Regions from separate parts of the Homo sapiens genome. Here all the other regions are linked to region 3. The links come from fine-mapping of genetic effects on gene expression. A gene starts in region 3. Each other region holds a variant in brackets. All regions are shown on one strand. Distances are between the middles of the regions. Region 1 overlaps WDR41 (WD repeat domain 41). Region 2 has its middle 64 kb from the start of WDR41. Region 3 holds the start of WDR41 (WD repeat domain 41).

Evidence for each region. PIP is the estimated chance that this variant, and not a neighbour inherited with it, causes the effect.
Region 1: its variant is fine-mapped to the expression of WDR41 in prefrontal cortex (CommonMind, PIP 0.95).
Region 2: its variant is fine-mapped to the expression of WDR41 in blood mononuclear cells (TOPMed, PIP 0.95).

The regions. Positions count from the first base shown.
Region 1 is chr5:77,427,865-77,435,698 of GRCh38, forward strand. It overlaps WDR41 (WD repeat domain 41), which reads right to left. Exons shown (of 13, transcript NM_018268.4): 13 at 3,069-5,423. The coding sequence ends at 5,271. PDE8B (phosphodiesterase 8B) reads left to right here. Exons shown (of 22, transcript NM_003719.5): 22 at 1-392. Among named protein-coding and RNA genes, the nearest start is that of WDR41, 61 kb to the right of the region's middle. The variant G/C (reference allele first, on the strand shown) is at 5,504.
Region 2 is chr5:77,553,618-77,558,617 of GRCh38, forward strand. It overlaps a transcript of WDR41 not described here. Among named protein-coding and RNA genes, the nearest start is that of WDR41, 64 kb to the left of the region's middle. The variant G/A (reference allele first, on the strand shown) is at 1,973.
Region 3 is chr5:77,490,320-77,495,319 of GRCh38, forward strand. WDR41 (WD repeat domain 41) reads right to left here and starts at 1,997. Exons shown (of 13, transcript NM_018268.4): 1 at 1,851-1,997. The coding sequence starts at 1,901. RefSeq lists an enhancer at 1,459-2,382 and silencers at 1,503-1,722, 2,163-2,302.

The DNA of each region.
Region 1 (7,834 bases), 61 kb before region 3:
TAAAAGGTATAAACAAACAGAGACTGAATTAATTGAATCAGTAATTACTTTTTTCCAATACAAATTGGAATGCAGAATACTTGGAACTTGTACATGGGGAAAAAATGACTTATCACTACATAATGTGCCAATGTTTTTTTCTATGTTTTGTACCAAAAATGGAAAAATATGACAATTCCATGCAAAGAAATGTATCTAAATTATTTTTGTTAGATGATAAGAGAACTTGCTTGGTCAGGACAGCAGCCAGCTTTGTATTGTAATGCTATATTATGTAAATGTGATGAAAATGTTTTTGTGAAGTACTTGTAACTAAATTCCTACAGCCATTTTTCACTCCCAACAGCTGTTTTTATTTTACCTCTTTGGCCTAAAGTTTTCATAATTTCAAATTTGGGGTTTAGTGTCCTTTATTTCATGAGTCACACACTTTGTTTTCAGAGCACATTAAAATCAGGATGCCAGAATCCCATATTAAGGACCTAGCTAACTTGCCTAGGCTTCAGAAGCTTGCTTGAGGCAAGGACAATCTTTTTCTGATCATCTCACTTTCAGTTCTATTTGGTAAGTAACATTTATCAGGTGTCAGACATCTTCTATATGAAATATTTACAGCTTACTCAGTTTTATGTCAAATTTCTTGTTAACTTCAAACTTTTTATTAGTAATGTGCAAATGTTTAAAAATGCTTTAAGACAGCTAGGTACTAAAGCGTCAACAATTTCTGCTCTTTACCAGTGTAATCTACGGTATAATCTTCTGGCCTGCGAACTAGTCTATTCTTCCACATAGTCAACTTGTTAGAAATACAGGCTTTCAGATGATATGTGTATCAGATAGTTTATATTATATAAACTATTATAACTGCCTCTTACACAGAGTTGTTTACTTAAATGTCATGTGCTGAGGAGGGCCGTATTAGGAAAATGCAACACTCTCTAATAATTTCCGTGACTAGTAAGAGAAGGAAGCCAGTTATAAAACACTGCTGGACCAGAATGACCCTATAATTTCCTAAGATCATTCTTTATTTCTAATTTAAGATTTTTAAATTTACTTGCCCTCCATGTCAGGACTGGTTAGCATTCTGGGCAAAAAAAAAACAAGCCTGTCAGTTCACTCAGAACCTACTCAGCTTTAGAGAGAGAAACAGAAGGGATGATCTTGTGCCCTTGCGCTATGTGAATATAGCCAGAGACTGAGGTAATAAATATATTTTAAAATAAAAATGACAAGGGATTTGTACACTGTAACACTATGTAGTGTTACTTCTGCTGTTGCAAGTATCTTAACTGTTGAAAGCTAAACTCAGGAAATGGAGAAAATGTACATAATATACATTGACCCATTATTTTATTCTAAATTGAAAGTCCAACTTTTAGCAGCAGTCTACCTGCAACTACTGAACACCATCAGGTTTGAGTCCCTACCAGAATCTCCCATCATACTGTTATCCCCCATCTCTGTGACCTTAGGGCATGCATGAAAACAAAAGCAATCTAGTCCCTAGGGTTGGAGACTGCCCTCTAGACAGTTTTTCATGGCAGAAAATTAGAATACAAGTATACCTCATTTTATTGCATTCTGCTTCATTGTGCTTCAAAGATACTGCCTTTTCTACAAATTGAGGGCTTGTGGCCACCCTGCATAGAGCAAGTCTATCGGGGCATTTTCCCAGCATGGGCTCACTTTGTGTAAGTGTCACATTTTGGTAACTCTTAGAGTATTTCAAATGTTTTTATTCTTGTATCTGTCATGGTGGTCTGTGATCAGTGATCTTTGTTACTACTGTAATTGTTTTAGGGTACTGCAAACCATGCCCGTATAAGACAGTGAACTTAATTGATAAATCTTGTGTATATTCTAACTGTTCCACCAACTAGCGGTTTCCAGTCTCTCCCTCTTCTTAGACCTCCCTATTCCCTGAGACACAACAATATCGAAATTAAGCCAATTAATAACCTACAGTAGCCTGTAAATGTGCAAGTAAAAGAGTCACATGTCTCTCACTTTAAATCAAAAGCTACAGATAATAAAGCTTAGTGAAGAAGGCATGTTGAAAGCCCAGGCAGGTGAAAGCCATGCCTCTTACACCAGTTAGCCAAGTTATGCAAAGGAAGAGTTCTTGAAAGTGTTAACTCCAGTGAACATGCAAACAAGAAAGTGAAACAGCCTTACTGCTGAGATGGAGAAAGTCTGAGTGGTCTATATAGATTAAACAAGCCACAACATTCCCTTAAGCCAAAGCCTAATTAATTCTTCAATTCTTTCTTCGAAGACTGAGAGGTGAGGATGCTACAGAAGAAAAGCTGGAAGCAAGCAGAGGTTGGTTCATGAAACTATCCCCATTAACGTCAGAGTGCAAGGGACAACAACAGCAGGAAGTTGTCCAGATGATCTAGCTAAGATCACTGAAGGCGACTACACTAAACAACTGAGTTTGTGAAGATGAAATGGTCTTCTATTAGAAGAGATGTCATCTAGGACTTCATAGCTGGGGAGAAGAAGTTCAATGCCAGCGAGTGTAGTTGGTGCCTTTAAGTTGAAGTCAGAGTTTATTTACCAGTCCAAAAATCTTAAGGCCCTTAAGAATTATGTTAAATCTACTCTGCCTATGCTCTAGAAGTGGAATAACAAAGCCTAGATGACAGCATATCTGTTTATAGCATGGTTTATTGAATATTTAAGCCTATGGTTGAGACCTGCTCAAATTTCTTTCCAAATATTACTGCCCATTACAATGTTACCTGGTCACCTAAGAGTTCTGATGGAGATGTACAAGGAGGTTCATGTTGTCTTCGTGCCAGCTACCACAACATCTATGCTGCAGTCCATGGGTCAAGGAGTCACTTTGACTTTTAAGTCTTATTTATTTAAGAAATACATTTAATAAGGCTGTAGCTGCCCTAACTAGTGATTCCTCTGAAGAGTCTGGGCAAAGTCAATTGAAAACCTTCTGGGAAGCATTTAGCATTCTAGATGCCACTAAGAACATTCTGATTCATGGGAGGCGGTCAAAATTCCAGCATTAAAAGGAGTCTGGAAGAAGTGGAGCCTGAAGATGTGAATGAATTGCTGTAATCTCATGATCAAACTTTAATAGATGAGAAGTTGCTTAAGAATGTGTATAGAAAGTGGTTTCTGGAGACAGTCATTTCCACAGTGAAGATGCTGTAAACATAGTTGAAATGACAACAAAGGATTTAGAATATTCTATAAACTTAGTTCATAAAGGAGCATCAGGATTTGAGATGACAGACTCTAAATTTTGAAAGAAGTTCTACTGTGGGTAAAATGCTATTAAATAGTATTACATGTTACAGAGATCTCATTTGTGAAAGGAAGTCAATTGATTTGGAAAACTTCATCGCTATCTTATTTTAAGGAACTGCCACAGCCACCCCAACCTTCAGTAACCACCTTAGTCAACAGCCAGCAGTATCAAGACCCTCCACCAGCAAAAAGATTATGACTCGCTGAAGGCTCAGATGATTGTTAGCATTTTTTAGCAATAAAGTATTCTTAAGGTATGTACATTTTTTAGAAATTTAAGACTGTAGTATAAACACAAGTTTTATAGGCACTGGGAAACCAAAAACTAGATGTGACTCACTCTATTTGCAATAGTTGCTTTTTTGATGTGGTCTGAAACCTAACCTGTAGTATCTCTGAGGTACGCCTGTATAATGACCAGAAGGAATTTGCTGTGGTACTTACGGTACCATTTGCTTCCAAAATTCATGTGATTTCTACCACTCCATTTGAATAGATTACTATCACAAAATACTAGCCTAGAACAGGCTAGGAAGTAAAACAGTTAAGTCTATGGCTCCCTTGTGTCATACAACTTCAGAAAACAACTTTACAAATGTATGGGCCAATGCAGAATTTCTAAAGGAAAAAGCACGTGAATAATGGGAGAAAGTCTTCTGTAATTGAGGTAGCTTAAGTTTTAATATTTCTCCATAGAACTTTTCATGACTCAATGTTGTTTGGATTTAAAGTAGTCATATAAGCCTTTTCTCATTCAGTCTTCAGTTCCTGTTTTTAGAGCTGCTTGGTGATACTGGGCACTACAGATTTAATTGCAAGGCCTTACTGCACTGGGCCTCAGTTTCCTCATTTGTAACATTATGCCACTGGTCTACTCAGATGACCTTAACTCTTCCAGTCTTTGTAGGTAGTTGTGGAAGCAACTGTCAAAGCTAAAACTAGTAAAAGAACTTATGGAGATTCCCTTTAGGGTATATTTGTAGTATATTTGTATAATGAACAAATAAATCTGTAGGTTTTCTGTAAGAAGGGTCAGTCTGCTAACATCTGTCACGTTGCCCTTTCTTCATCAGTAGTTTAAGAATTTCAATCTTTAATGTGTAGACTACTTTCTAATATTTTCATTTTTTAGCACCAAAAGGAGAAAACATATTGTTACAAGGCTGGTTATAGTGTCTCAATGGACACTGCAAAGAACTACATAAAAGAAGTCTGTCTCAAGCAGTTCGTATTTGAGTCAGTGGTCAGATGGGGCAGTTGCGCTCAGCTGCAGTCCCTGACTCCGGAAACACTGTGCCTCTCAAATGATCTAGAGCTCATCCTTGGCGTACATGAGGGGCAGTTGTTGTTCTAGTACCCATTTAGCCCATGGCTCTTCAAGCCAATTCACACTGGGAAAAACACACCCTCACAAGATGCCTATCCATTTGAGTTCATACAGGTTTTAGTAGCTAGAACTAAAAAACATTTTTAAAATTATCTAAACAAATTGGTACCAAAGAAAACTTGCCATACTTAAACAGTATATATGTTCCCTTTTTTGGCTGAGAGATTCAAGTTTGTGCTATATAGAACACTAACAGTTACTAAAGACTAGGAAAATTTGCAGGAGAAAGGCTATTTTTAAACTTCACAATAATTCTAAAGGAAGCCAAATAATAAAACTTCTAATAAATGCCATAACTTAACTATTACCTCTATTTGTACCTTTCACAAGGATCTAGGTTCAAAATAAGCTCAAAACACAGCACTCACCACTTCAACAGCAGCTCAAAGTCAAATGGAAAAACTTGTGGTATATTCTTTGGAGGATATACTAGGACCTGAGAAGCAACATGTTCCTGGTTGGTAGGTCCACAAAAAATTTAAACATGTAGAATTTTATGGACTGACAAAAAAAATTACCAATTTAAGTGATCAATATATTAATGGTTTTCAGAGTAGTACCCGATATTTGATGTTCAAGGTTCATGCATGTGTATTTTTAATTCCTTAAACTAGACAGCAAGGTATAAGTCACCATTCTCCTCTAATTTTTGAAATAATCTTAAACTGCGCAATCCAGATTCTCGCTCTCCATTTTTCCACAAAATAATGAGATGATCAGCGGAGCACGTCACTAGTCCATGATCTTCAAAGTATAGAAACATCTGTAAAGAAAATTAAAACTGATTATAGGGACCCCGAAAAGCAGAGAAGTGTCTAATACCACATTAACACATGTGCGTGT[G/C]AGATATGTGCCTTAAAGACTCCTTTGGATCTGGGTGTAGAACTTCATTTCATTTTTCAGTATTGGTAAGTCACATACAAATAATATCTAATATTTTAATCAGAATTTTGTTAATATTGTTCAACTACAGAATAGCTATTTTTGTAAAGTACATGAATTCTCATAGTTCTTCCAGATTTTTTCATCATCTGATTTTTCAAGTATTGGTTTTACTTAACCATTACTTATACTGTATAATGGCTATGGAAAAAATGTCTGAATTCTAAATTTCCCAAGATAAACACTGGCTTCAGCTCTCTATAAAAGTAGATATACTCAATCCATAGGTGTTAAGTGTCAGCACTACGTTTATGGTCCCTACCCTCAAGAAGATTCTGAAAAGCAAATCATAATTGAAACAATAAAGGTACCAATGAGAGATTATGTAATCAGGTACTAAATAATGCAGTATAGACTATGACATGTCACAGAAATTCAGAAAAAGCTTCAAAGGGAGAAAATGCCCCAAGTAAGGGGAAGGGGCTTGCCCAGTGAAGGAATAGGCTGGAAGCTAAGAATAGGAAAACAGAGTGTTGACAAAAGGCAGCATGAATACTATGGGGTGAAGAGTTGTATCAGAAAAGTGAATCAATGAAAAGGATGAGGTCCTCGAAGGAAAGGGTGAAATAAAAGAGAAACAGGGCCGGGCGTGGTGGCTCACACCTGTAATCTCAGCACTTCGGGAGGCTGAGGTGGGTGGACTGCCTGAGGTCAGGAGTTTAAGGCCAGCCTGGCCAAACATGGTGAAACCCTGTCTATACTAAAAATTAGCTGGGTATCTGTAATCCCAGCTACTCGGGAGGCCGAGGAAAGAGAATCGCTTGAACCCAGGAGGTAGAGGTTGCAGTGAGTGGAGATTGCGCCATTGTACTCCAACCTGGGCAACAAGAGCAAAACTCCCTCTCGGGAAAAAAAACAAGAGTTTTCTCTGAAATGACATATACATTTCTGAAGACCACAGGATAAGACTCAGCTGAGGATGCAGGAGTGAAGGGAGGAAACATGGGAGCAGAATTCCTTCGGAAACTGGAAAACACAAAATTCAGTACACAGGTAGAGGGGTTGCGCCAGTAGAGCAAGGATGAAAATAGAAATGAGGACCAGCCTGGCCAACATGGTGACACCCCATCTCTACTAAAAGTACAAAAATTAGCTGGGCGTGGTGGCGGGCACCTGTAATCCCAGCTACTTGGGAGACTGAGGCAGGAGAATTGCTTAAACCTGGGAGGCGGAGAGTACAGTGACCCAAGACTGCACTCCAGCCTGGGCAACAGAGTGAGATGCTGTCTCAAAGAAAAAAAAAGAAATGAGGAAATTCAGGTGACACTGCAAAGATAGCCTAGATTTTATCAACGAAGCTGGAGATGCTTTTTAAAAGTGTTCAGGTCTCAACACTTTCACTCAGGAAAATTCCTAAGAAGCTGACACTGTTTTATAGAATGAGAAATGTGCCACATTCAAACACATTTTGAATGTCTTTTACATGGGGTTTTCCCTACCATCTAAAAACCTTTTTAATGAGTTCCTACTATTTAAAAAATAAAGTCCAAACTCCTCAGCCTTACATTCAAGGACATCCATAATCTGACCCCAAACCACGTTCCCAGGCTTTATCCCCTACTAGTGTCTGTTCACAGGAACCCAGCGCTCCGGCCTAGCCAAGGTGCTCCTTGCCACCACGTAAATGCTATCTTTGCCCTTCTGCCTACCACAGTCCATGCTCACCTCCCAACCATAAACACAAAGTTAAAAACTGAGCTACTTGTTAGAGGAAAGCAAAGATAACTATGACACTGTACCCCAACATCAAGGAGCTTATGATGACAAGGCTATATACTCATCCTACTAAACTTCAAGGTTCAGCTCAAGTGTCAAGTCCTATATCCTCTAACCATTTACAAGATTCAGCAAGAAATGTTTCTTCTGAGTCACTGCTGCTTACTTGGGTCCATCAAATGCAGCCTAGGGTAACAGCCTATTAGGTCTATACCCCTTCTCTCCACTCAAGGGTAAGATCCATGAGGGCAAGGACTGTTTTCATCTCTCTCTGTAAACTCCAGCAGCCAGTGTTTAGCACAGTGCCTGAAATACAGGAAATGCTCACTAACAAGGATGCTGCCGCTGCTCCTCCTAAGCATGAATGCCCTTTCAAATGAAAAGAAATTTTTTGTTCTTTGGCTATGAAACAGGGAAGAACAATTTAAGAAATTCCTTAGGGCCCTGATTACACTGTTATTAGTTCTCACAGCTAATCTGTTACCTCAACTGATCTTATTCCTTCACTACAGGCAA
Region 2 (5,000 bases), 63 kb after region 3:
AAATCTATTAAATGAACAAAAGACATAAACAGACATTTACCAAAGATGATAAAAATAAGCACATGAAAAGATATTCAATATCATAAGCTGTTAGGAAACTTTAAATTAAAACTACAATGAGATACCACTACACACATATCAACATGACTAAGATTTTAAAAAATAACACCACCAAATGCTGGCAAGGATGCAGAGAAACTGGTTCACTCATACATTACTGGTGGGAATGTAAAATGGTAAGCCACTCTGGAAAAGAGTTTAACAGTTGTTTAAAATGTTAAACTTGCAACTACCATACAACCCAATAATTGCACTTCTGGACATTTATGCCAGAGGAATGAAAGTTATTTTAACATAAAAACCCAAATAATTAATGGTTATAGCAGCTTTATTTGTTATTGCTAAAAACTGGAAGTCAACAGATGGTTAAAGAAATTGTGGTATATGCACAACATGGAATTCTACTAAGCAATAAAAATAAATAGTCGGTTGATACATATGACTTGGATGTCTCTAGGGAATTCTGCTGAGTACAATGATATAGTGTTTTATAATCCCCAAAAGTTACACACTACATTATTCCATGCATATAAAATTTGGGGAGTGCCAAATTTTAGAAATGGAGGATCGATTAGTGGTTGCCAGATGGTAGAGATTGGTGAGGGGAGGTAGGGAAGTAGTTGTTCTGGTCTGAATGTTTCTGTCCCCCTGAAATTCTTACGTTAAAATCTAATCACCAGTGAGATGGTATTAGAAAGTGGGACCTTTGGGAGGTGATTAGGTCATAATGGTAGAGCCCTCGTGAATAGGATTAGTGCTCTTGTAGAAGAGATCCCAGAGAGCTAGCTCACCCTTCCCACCATGTGAGGACACAACTACAAAGTACCTTTCTAGGAGACAGGCCCTCTCCAGAAACTGAATCTGCTGATGTATTGATCTCGGACTTCCCAGCCTCCAGAACTATCAGAAATAAATTTGTTATTATTATATAATATAAATTTTTTATAATTTATAATATATAGTATAATTTATAACTTATTTAGTATAATTTCTGTTGTTTATGAGTTTATAGTATTTTGTTATAGCAACACAAATGGACTAAGACAGTGGTGTAGTTATAAAGAGCAACAGGAAGGATCCTTGTTGTGCTGGAACTGTTTAGTATCTTGAACAGTGGTAGTGGATACAAGAATCTACATAGCTGATAAAAGTGCCTAGAGGCCGGGTGGGGTGGCTCATGCCTGCAATCCCAGCACTTTGGGAGGCTGAGGTGGGTGGATCACTTGAGCCCAGGAATTCGAGACCAACCTACAAAATATACAAAAATTAACTGGGCACAGTGGCATACACCTGTAGCCCCAGCTACTCAAGAAGCTGAGGTGGGAGGATTCATTGATCCCAGAAGGTGGAGGCTGTACCTGATTGTACCACTGCATTCCAGCTTGGGTGAGACAACAAGACCCTGTTTCAAAAAAAAAAAAAAATACAAGTATATAGAACTTAACACACACACTCGTACAATTCAAATTGGAAAAATCTAAATAAAATCAGTGAATTGTATTAATTTTCTGGTTGTAATACTATGCTATTATTTTCAAAAATGTTACCGTTGGAGGAAACTGGGCAAAGTGTACAAAGGATCTTTCTGCGTTGTATCTTAAACTGCATATTACTCTACAATTATCTTTTATTTAATTCATTTATTTATTAAGACAGGGTATCACTTTGTCACACAGGCTGAAGGGCAGTGGCATGATCACGGCTCACTGCAGCCTCAACTTCCTTGGCTCAAGTGAGCCTCCCACCTCAGTCTCCCAAGAAGCTGGGACTACAGGTGCACACCACCACACCCAGCTAATTGTTTTGGTTTTTAGCAGAGGCAAGGTCTCGCTATGTTGTCCAGGCTGGTCCTGAACTCCTGAGCTCAAGAGATCCTCCTGCCTCAGCCTCCCAAAGTGCTGGGATTACAGGT[G/A]TGAGCCACCCCGCCTAGCCTGTAATTATCTTTAAAAAAGACATTAATTACAACAGCATCCGAAAATATAAAGTGCCTAGAAATGAATCTAACAAACAATGGGTAAGATCCTTATGAAGAAATTATAAAATTTTATTGAAAGAGATAAAAAGACTAAATAAATGAAGTATAAATCTTATCCTCATGGATTGGAAGACAAATTCATAAAGATGTAAAGATTCAATACTATTTCAATCAAAATCCTAACAAGGTTTCTTTGTGGAAACTAACAAGCTGATTCTAAAATTCATATGGAAAGAAAAGAGCCAAGAATTAAACACTACTGAAGAAGAAAAACAGAAGGAAGAGACTTGCCTTACCAGATATCAGGTGTTTTATAAAGCTGGAGCAATTAACACAGTGGCATTTGCACAGAAATAGCAAAAATAACCAACAGTTGAAAACAGAGAACCCAGAACCCAGAAACAGGTTTGATTTTTGACAAAGGTGGTGGGGAAAAGATGGACTTTTTTTTTTTTTTTTTTTTTTTTTTTGAGATGGAGTCTCTCTCTGTTGCCAGGCTGAAGTGCAGTGGTGCGATCTCGGCCCGCTGCAACCTCCGACTCCCGGGTTCAAGCAATTCTCCTGCCTCAGCCTGCCGAAATAGCTGGGATTATAGGCCCATGCCACCACGCCCAGCTAATTTTTGTATTTTTAGTAGACATGGGGTTTCACCATGTTGGCTAGGCTGGTCTAGAACTCCTGACCTCAAGTAATCCACCCACCTTGGCCTCCCAAAGCGCTGGGATTACAGGCGTGAGCCGTTGCACCCGACTGACTGACTGTTTGTTTGTTTTGAGGTGGAGTCTCGCTCTACTGCGCAGGCCAGAGTGCAGTGGCATGATGTCGGCTCATTGCAACCTCTGCCTCCTGGGTTCAAGCAATTCTCCTACGTGTAGCCCCCAAGTAGCTGGGATTACAGGCACGCGCCACCACACCCAGCTAATTTCTGTATTGTTTGTGGAGTTTTAAATTTAATATCACTAAGACAGCTGGTTATTCATGTGGGGAAAAAAGTGAAATTGGGTCTTATTTTTGTGGTTGCCCCATGAAAGGTGAGCTCAATGCCCCCATCCAAAACTGGTTCAGATATCAAGATTGTTGATACCACATTTACAACAAGAAGGTATTTTAAAAGTTTATTACACACAATGAGGCTTTCTGGTCAGAACAGGACAGGCATCCAAGCCAGTTCTAAATGGCTTGAGGGAGGGAGAGAAAAGGGTCTTTGATTTTTAATGTGGTCAGTGATAGGGCCAGTATGAGGGATGATTTGAACTTCTCCTTGGCACCAAGGGAGGGGGCACCTGGGGTTTCTAATCAGCTTTGCCAGATGCTGGGCAAGAGGGAAAGGGGGAGGGGTGGAGCCTGAAAGCTGTTGGTAGTCAAACATCAAAAATGGAATTAGATTATTTATTACAGATCCCTTTTACACACATAAACAAAAAATTCCTTGTGGATTAGGAGTTATATTAAAAGCAAAAGTATGAAACTTTTAAAAGACAAAATTGAAGAATATCTTTATGATCTCAAGGTAGTGAAAGATTTACTAGACATAGCACAGAAAGTACTAACCATAAAGAAAAAGTGATAAATTTAACTCTAGTATATTAAAGTTAAAAACTTCTGTTTAAAAGCAAAACAAAACAAAAAACCATTAAGAGAATAAATAAGTAAACCACACTCTGGGAGAAGTGATTTGTTACACCCTAAAAATGAGCCCCCAAAATTGTACCCAGAATATACAAAGACCTACTATAAGTCACCAGAGAAACACACACAATCCAATAGAGAATGGACAGAAGACTTGAGCAAGCATTTCACAAAGAGGTGGCAGAAGTAACCAAAAGTATAAAAAGATAAAAGATGCTCACAGTAAGATGACATTTCACATCTGTAAAGCTTGCAAAAATTAAAAATTCTGACAATATTAAATGTTAGCGTGAGCCACTAGAACACTTGTACACTTCTCATGGCAGTAGGAATCAGTATAGTCGCTTTGAAAAAGCAGTCTGGCATTAATTGCTTAGTGGATTTGAAGGCATGCAATTCCACTCCTAGGCACGTACCTACAGAAACTCTTGCACATATACACCAAAATACATGTGTAGTAATACTCAGAGTATAGTGACACTATTCATAATAGAGAACAATGAAAACAGCCCAAATGTTTACCAACAGTAGAATGAATAAACTGTGGCATATTCATACAATGGACTATTAGGTGAGAGTTAAAAGTAATGACTTATAGTAGAAGCAATGAAGTTACAAAAGAATGTATACGGTATGATTATCTTTATATAAAGGCCAAAAACATGCAAAATTAAACAACATATTGTTTAGAAGAAAAAATGTGGCAATGCAGTGAGTAAGAACAAGCAAATAAAAACCCCACGTCAGTGTAATGATTACCTTTAAGTAGGGAGGGAAGAAATGAACACATAGGGAACTTCAAATGTTCTTTTTAAAAAAAAAAAAAAAAAAAAAACAAAACAGGAGTAGGTATGTAGGTAATCGTTAAAATGCGATTCTTCAAATGTTAATATATTTTAAATTAATATTTAACTTTAAAAAACAATTTGTATAAAGAAAAATCATTGCTCTTGAATTCTCTTTCTGTTTAGGAAAGGAAAATTTACCATTGTGACATTTTTAGTGTCTTATGAGCTTTTCCTTGTGCATGAGTAAAAATCTAAGAAAAATAGAAAAGGAAATTGAAAAAGAATATTCTTACATATGTGCCAGGCAACAGCAGACAGCCCACCTTTCCCAGGGAGTCTGGCTACACAAAGGCCTATGGAGGCAGAGCAGATTGCCGCATTCACCAAAAGAGCCTCGCTGACCTGCACCGAATTCCCCAGAGGACTGGGCCCTACTTATTTTTACATCATTAGCCCTCTTGGGGCAGGCTGAGGTCATTTCCAATTTGAAAACGACCTTGGATCACAAGCTGAAGTTTTCCATTTGTTTACGCTATTAAACATCCTGA
Region 3 (5,000 bases):
TCCCTGGTCTATACACATTAGATGCCAATAGAACTGCCCCTCTGCAAGGCATGACAATCAAAAATGTCTCCAGACATTGCCAAATGTCTCCTGCGGGGCAAAAATCACCCCAGTTGAGAACCACTGCTTAAACGAGAAGCCTGGATACAAAGTTATTGCATAAATTAGGGACAATCATAGGTTCCGATAATGTACAAATTCACAGCAGTTATACAACTCAATTAGATTTATATGAAGAAATATATAAATTTAAAACATGCATAAATGTTTTCCAAAAAAAAAACCACCACCACAAAGCATTGATTTTGTATTTATTCTGTCTTCCTTCTAGAAGAGATTGTGGTGAGAAATTTGAAAACTATATAAACTGCTTCTCCTCCAATGAAAACTTGCCAGGAATGGGAGACCTGGTTAAGCAAATAACATGATTAACCAAAGAACCAGGTTAAAACAGAATTATCCAAAATGTCGTATATACCATATATGGCTATTCAATAATCCACAATCTCAAGGATTTAGGATTAATCTGAAATAAGAAATTTTTAAAAACAGACAATACCGTCAACTGCAAAGACATGCGGAAGTTAAAATTGAGAAGACTGCCTACTCTCAACAATCCAATTTCTTACTTTTAACAATCTAAACAAATACTTCTTATGAGAAATAAAATGCAATTCACAAATTCTGTTCTTGTCAGGCCTCTGAGCCCAAGCTAAGCCATCGCATCCCCGGTGACTTGCACATATACGCCCAGATGGCCTGAAATAACTGAAGAATCACAAAAGAAGTGAAAATGCCCTGCCCCGCCTTAACTGATGACATTCCACCACAAAAGTGAAAATGGCCGGTCCTCGCCTTAAGTGATGACATTACCTTGTAAAAGTCCTTTTCCTGGCTCATCCTGGCTCAAAAAGCTCCCCTGAGCACCTTGCCCCACTCCTGCCCGCCAGAGAACAACTCCCCTTTGACTGTAATTTTCCTTTACCTACCCAAATCCTATAAAACGGCCCCACCCCTATCTCCCTTCGCTGACTCTCTTTTCGGACTCAGCCCGCCTGCACCCAGGTGATTAAAAGCTTTTATTGCTCACACAAAGCCTGTTTGGTGGTCTCTTCACACGGACGCGCATGAAAGTTCTTGTGTGGCATACGAAATAAATTTGGGACCTCAAAATTTCCAAGACTGCAAAAATTATTTTATTCACATTTCAAATGTAAATTTCATTACACACGGTCTATTCAATTATTCGGGCCCATGAAGAAAGTGTGACTATGAAACCAAAAACAGCAGTTAATTAGAAAATCATGTTCTTGACCTTGAAGCAGATTACTTTTTAAAAATAATTATATCCTTTTTCGGTTGTTGGATAAGTAAATTAATTTTATATTCCCTGACCAAGTATCAGTAGACGCCAGGAAGAGACACCAATTCAAATAAACCAAAAGTGGAAAGCTGCGGTCACAACTCGTTCGTTTCTAGCTAAATCGTATACTTTTTAAGTGGAAATGAAGATAGTTTCGGTAGCCAGAAGCCCTAAGTTGTCACAGGTCCCAATAGGACTGCTGACCAGCTGAGCGTCCCTGAGCCAGGATCTCACGATTCAGCTAGCCGTGGGACGGGGCCGGGGGTCTGCAGCTCCAGGGTGCGCCTGGGGTCCCGCCGGGTCTGAGGAGCTCCGGCTCCCGCGCCCTCCGCCCCCACCGTCGTGAGAACAGCGCGTGGCACGAGCTCAGCAGCCAGCCCCGCCTCCGCCCGGGTCCCCGCGGTCGGAACCCAGGAAGGCCGAACCGGAACGAAGCCGCCCCTCCAGCAAGCTCGACGGACGCAGAGCAGACCCACCCGGGGTTTACCTCGGCCAGTCCCTGCGGTTCTCGGCCTCCCCCGATCAGCCATCGCAACATCCGGGCAGCGGCGGCGTCTTGCCCGGTCCAGCCCCAGTCAGCCCAAACTCCGCCCCAGGCTCGGCCTCCTCCTTCCTCCCCGGCTGCAGCGCAACTGAGACGCTAATACTTCCCGCCCCAGATCAGCCCACGGGCCGAAGGAATGCAGACCACAGTTGAGGGAGAATTTTTGTCCCCAAAGCGCTCCCGTACCCAGCCACGGAGGCTTAGTTTGGGCAGTCGCTTGGGGTGCGGCGGCCGACGGCGGGGGCGGCTGCGGCGATTGCGGGGCGCGCGCTGCTCCGAGTGAGCACGCGCGGGAGCGCCGCCGGGTAGCGCACGGAGCTTAGGTAGCTCGAGCGGCCCCTGGTGGACGCGCGCGGAGCAGCAACCCGACCCCGGCGAGCAAGCGCGCACGAAGAATAATGCCCCTCCCTGTGACATGGCTTTAGTATCCTCCACTTCCTAGGGTACCAGGAAATCTCCCCTGCTTTCCCAAGAGCTTGCTGAAGAAGGTGTACCGCAGTAGACTTCTGCATCCAGACAAATCCAGTGGCTCATGTGTACAGCCGAATAAATCCGGCCAACATTTACTGTGTGCTATAGTACAGCTACTGTGCTAAGGCTTTACATAAATCCTCATGGTAAACCTATATCCTCTATTTTACACATCAAGAAACTAAAGCTCTGAATGATTAGGTAATTTGTCTAAAGATAACAGCTAGGAAGTGGCTACATTGGTAGTGTTCTTGACCGTATGCTATATTAACATAGAATCTCCCTAAAGAATAGAAGGCAGTTCATATACCTTTTTTTGACTACTACATTTTCTTAGGTAGTCAAAGGGCTGTGGTTATCTATGCTGACTGCATATCAGAATTACCTGGGTAGCTTTTGAAAATGTAGATTCCTGGCTTCCACCTCAGACTCATTAAAATAATCTTTGTGGTTGGGACGTAGGAATCGGGGTTTTGGGAAGGCTCCTCAGGTGATTCTGATGAGTAGCAAGGTCTGAAAATCACTGGTCTAGGAACTACTTATACATATCATGTTTGCAAAAGTATAAATATATATATTTGCATATGTATTAGGTTCAAATAATCCTCCTAGCAGTAAATTGTTGTAGGGAATCTACAAATGTCCCAACTAATGCATTAATTCAGCAAACATGTATTGGACACAGATGCACTAGAGAAGCAGAAAGGAATCACATAAAATGCTGCTCTGGAGGGACAAGGCATAATGTCCCAGTCACCAATAAGAGAGAGCCATACATCCCACTTTAAGCTAAGTTGGTTGTGAGCAGCTACACAAACTTACAGTCCCTCTGGAACTCGGATCTCCTATAATTCATCTTTGTATTCCTTTTGAGTGCACTCGGCAAGAACACACTCCCAAGGATCAGGAGCATGTTGCCTTCTGTGTGCTAGCCCCAAATTGCAGTCTGCATACAGTTGAAGACAGACCAAAACAGAGACTATCCCCTGGGAAAGAGGGACTTATCTTTAAGTAAAACAAAACTCAGAGACATCAGGAGTTCAGTTCTGGAAGGAATATCTTCACGTGAGACAATGTGGTTGCCCAAATAGCCTACATTTTATTCTTCTGATTATCCACATTCTTTAGGGTTTGCCCCATGCTCTTTAGGGTTTGCCCAATGCCACATTACTCTGATGTAAGGGACATTCTGCTGATGCTTTAAAGCACTGGTCCAGGGTTGAACACTTCCTCCCTTGGTTCCTCTTAGGACAGCTAAGAAAGAATTTTTTACAAGATTAGTATATTATTGGGCACACAATGTATAAAGATGTAATTTGTGGCATCAATAGAAAGGGTGGGGGTGGAGCAATATAGGAGCAGAGTCTTTGTATGCTATTGAAGTTACGTTGGTATAAATTAAAATGAGATTGTTATAACGTTAGGATGTTAAATGTAATTCTCATGGTAAACACAAAAATACCTGTAAAATATACATAAATGGAAATGATCAGGGAATCAAAACATTTACTACAAAAAATAAGCTAAATACAAAAGATGGCAGTAATAGAGAAAATGAGGTACAAAAAAACTATAAGGCATATAGAAAACAAATAGAAAAATAGAAATTCCTCTTTATCAGTAATTACTTTAAATATAAATAGATTAAACTGTCCAAAGAAAAGGCAGATTGACAAAAAAAAACCAAACTCTAGAATCCAACTATATGCTGTCTATGAAAGACTGACTTTAGATCAAAGACACAAATAGATCAAAAGGGAAAGAATAGAAAAAGATATTCCATGCAAATAGTAACCAAAAGAGAACTGGAGTGGCTGTACTAACAGCTGACAAAATAGACTTTAAATCAAAAAAGTTTTCAAAGACAGAAACATTATGTTATATATTAATAAAATAGTCAATATAGCAAGAAGATAAAACAATTACAAATATTTACACACCTAATAATAGACCCTCAAAATTTATGAAGCAAAACTTAACAGAATTGAAGAAAGATATAGTTCTACAACAATGGTAGCAGACTTCATCTGTCCACTTTCAATAATAGATAGAACAACCAGACAAGGTAAAGAAATAGAGGACATAAACAACACAATAAACTAATTACATCTAACATATAAAGAACACACTACCCAACAACATCAGCATAAACATTCATCTCAAGCACATGTAAGACATTCTCTTAGATAGACCATATGTTAGGCCACAAAATAAGTCTCAATCAATTTTAAAAGATAGATATCACACAAAGTATCTTCTCTGACCACAACAGGAATCAGTGACAGAAGTAAAACTGGAAAATTCACAAATGTGTTGAAATTAAGCAAAACACTCAAACAACCAATGAGTCACAAGAAAAAGCAGCACAAAAGAAATTATAAAATACCTAGAGACAAAAACACAACACGACAAAACTTACGGGATGCGGTAAAAGCAGTACTTAAAGGGAAATTTATAGGTATAAATGTCTACATTAAAAAAGAAGATCTAAAATCAATAACCTGACTTTATACCATAGGAACTTGAAGTAGAAGAGCAAATGAAACCCAAAACTAGTAGGAGGAAGGAAATAATAAGAATTAGAGCAGAGATAAACAAAATAGAGAATAGAAAAAATAGAGC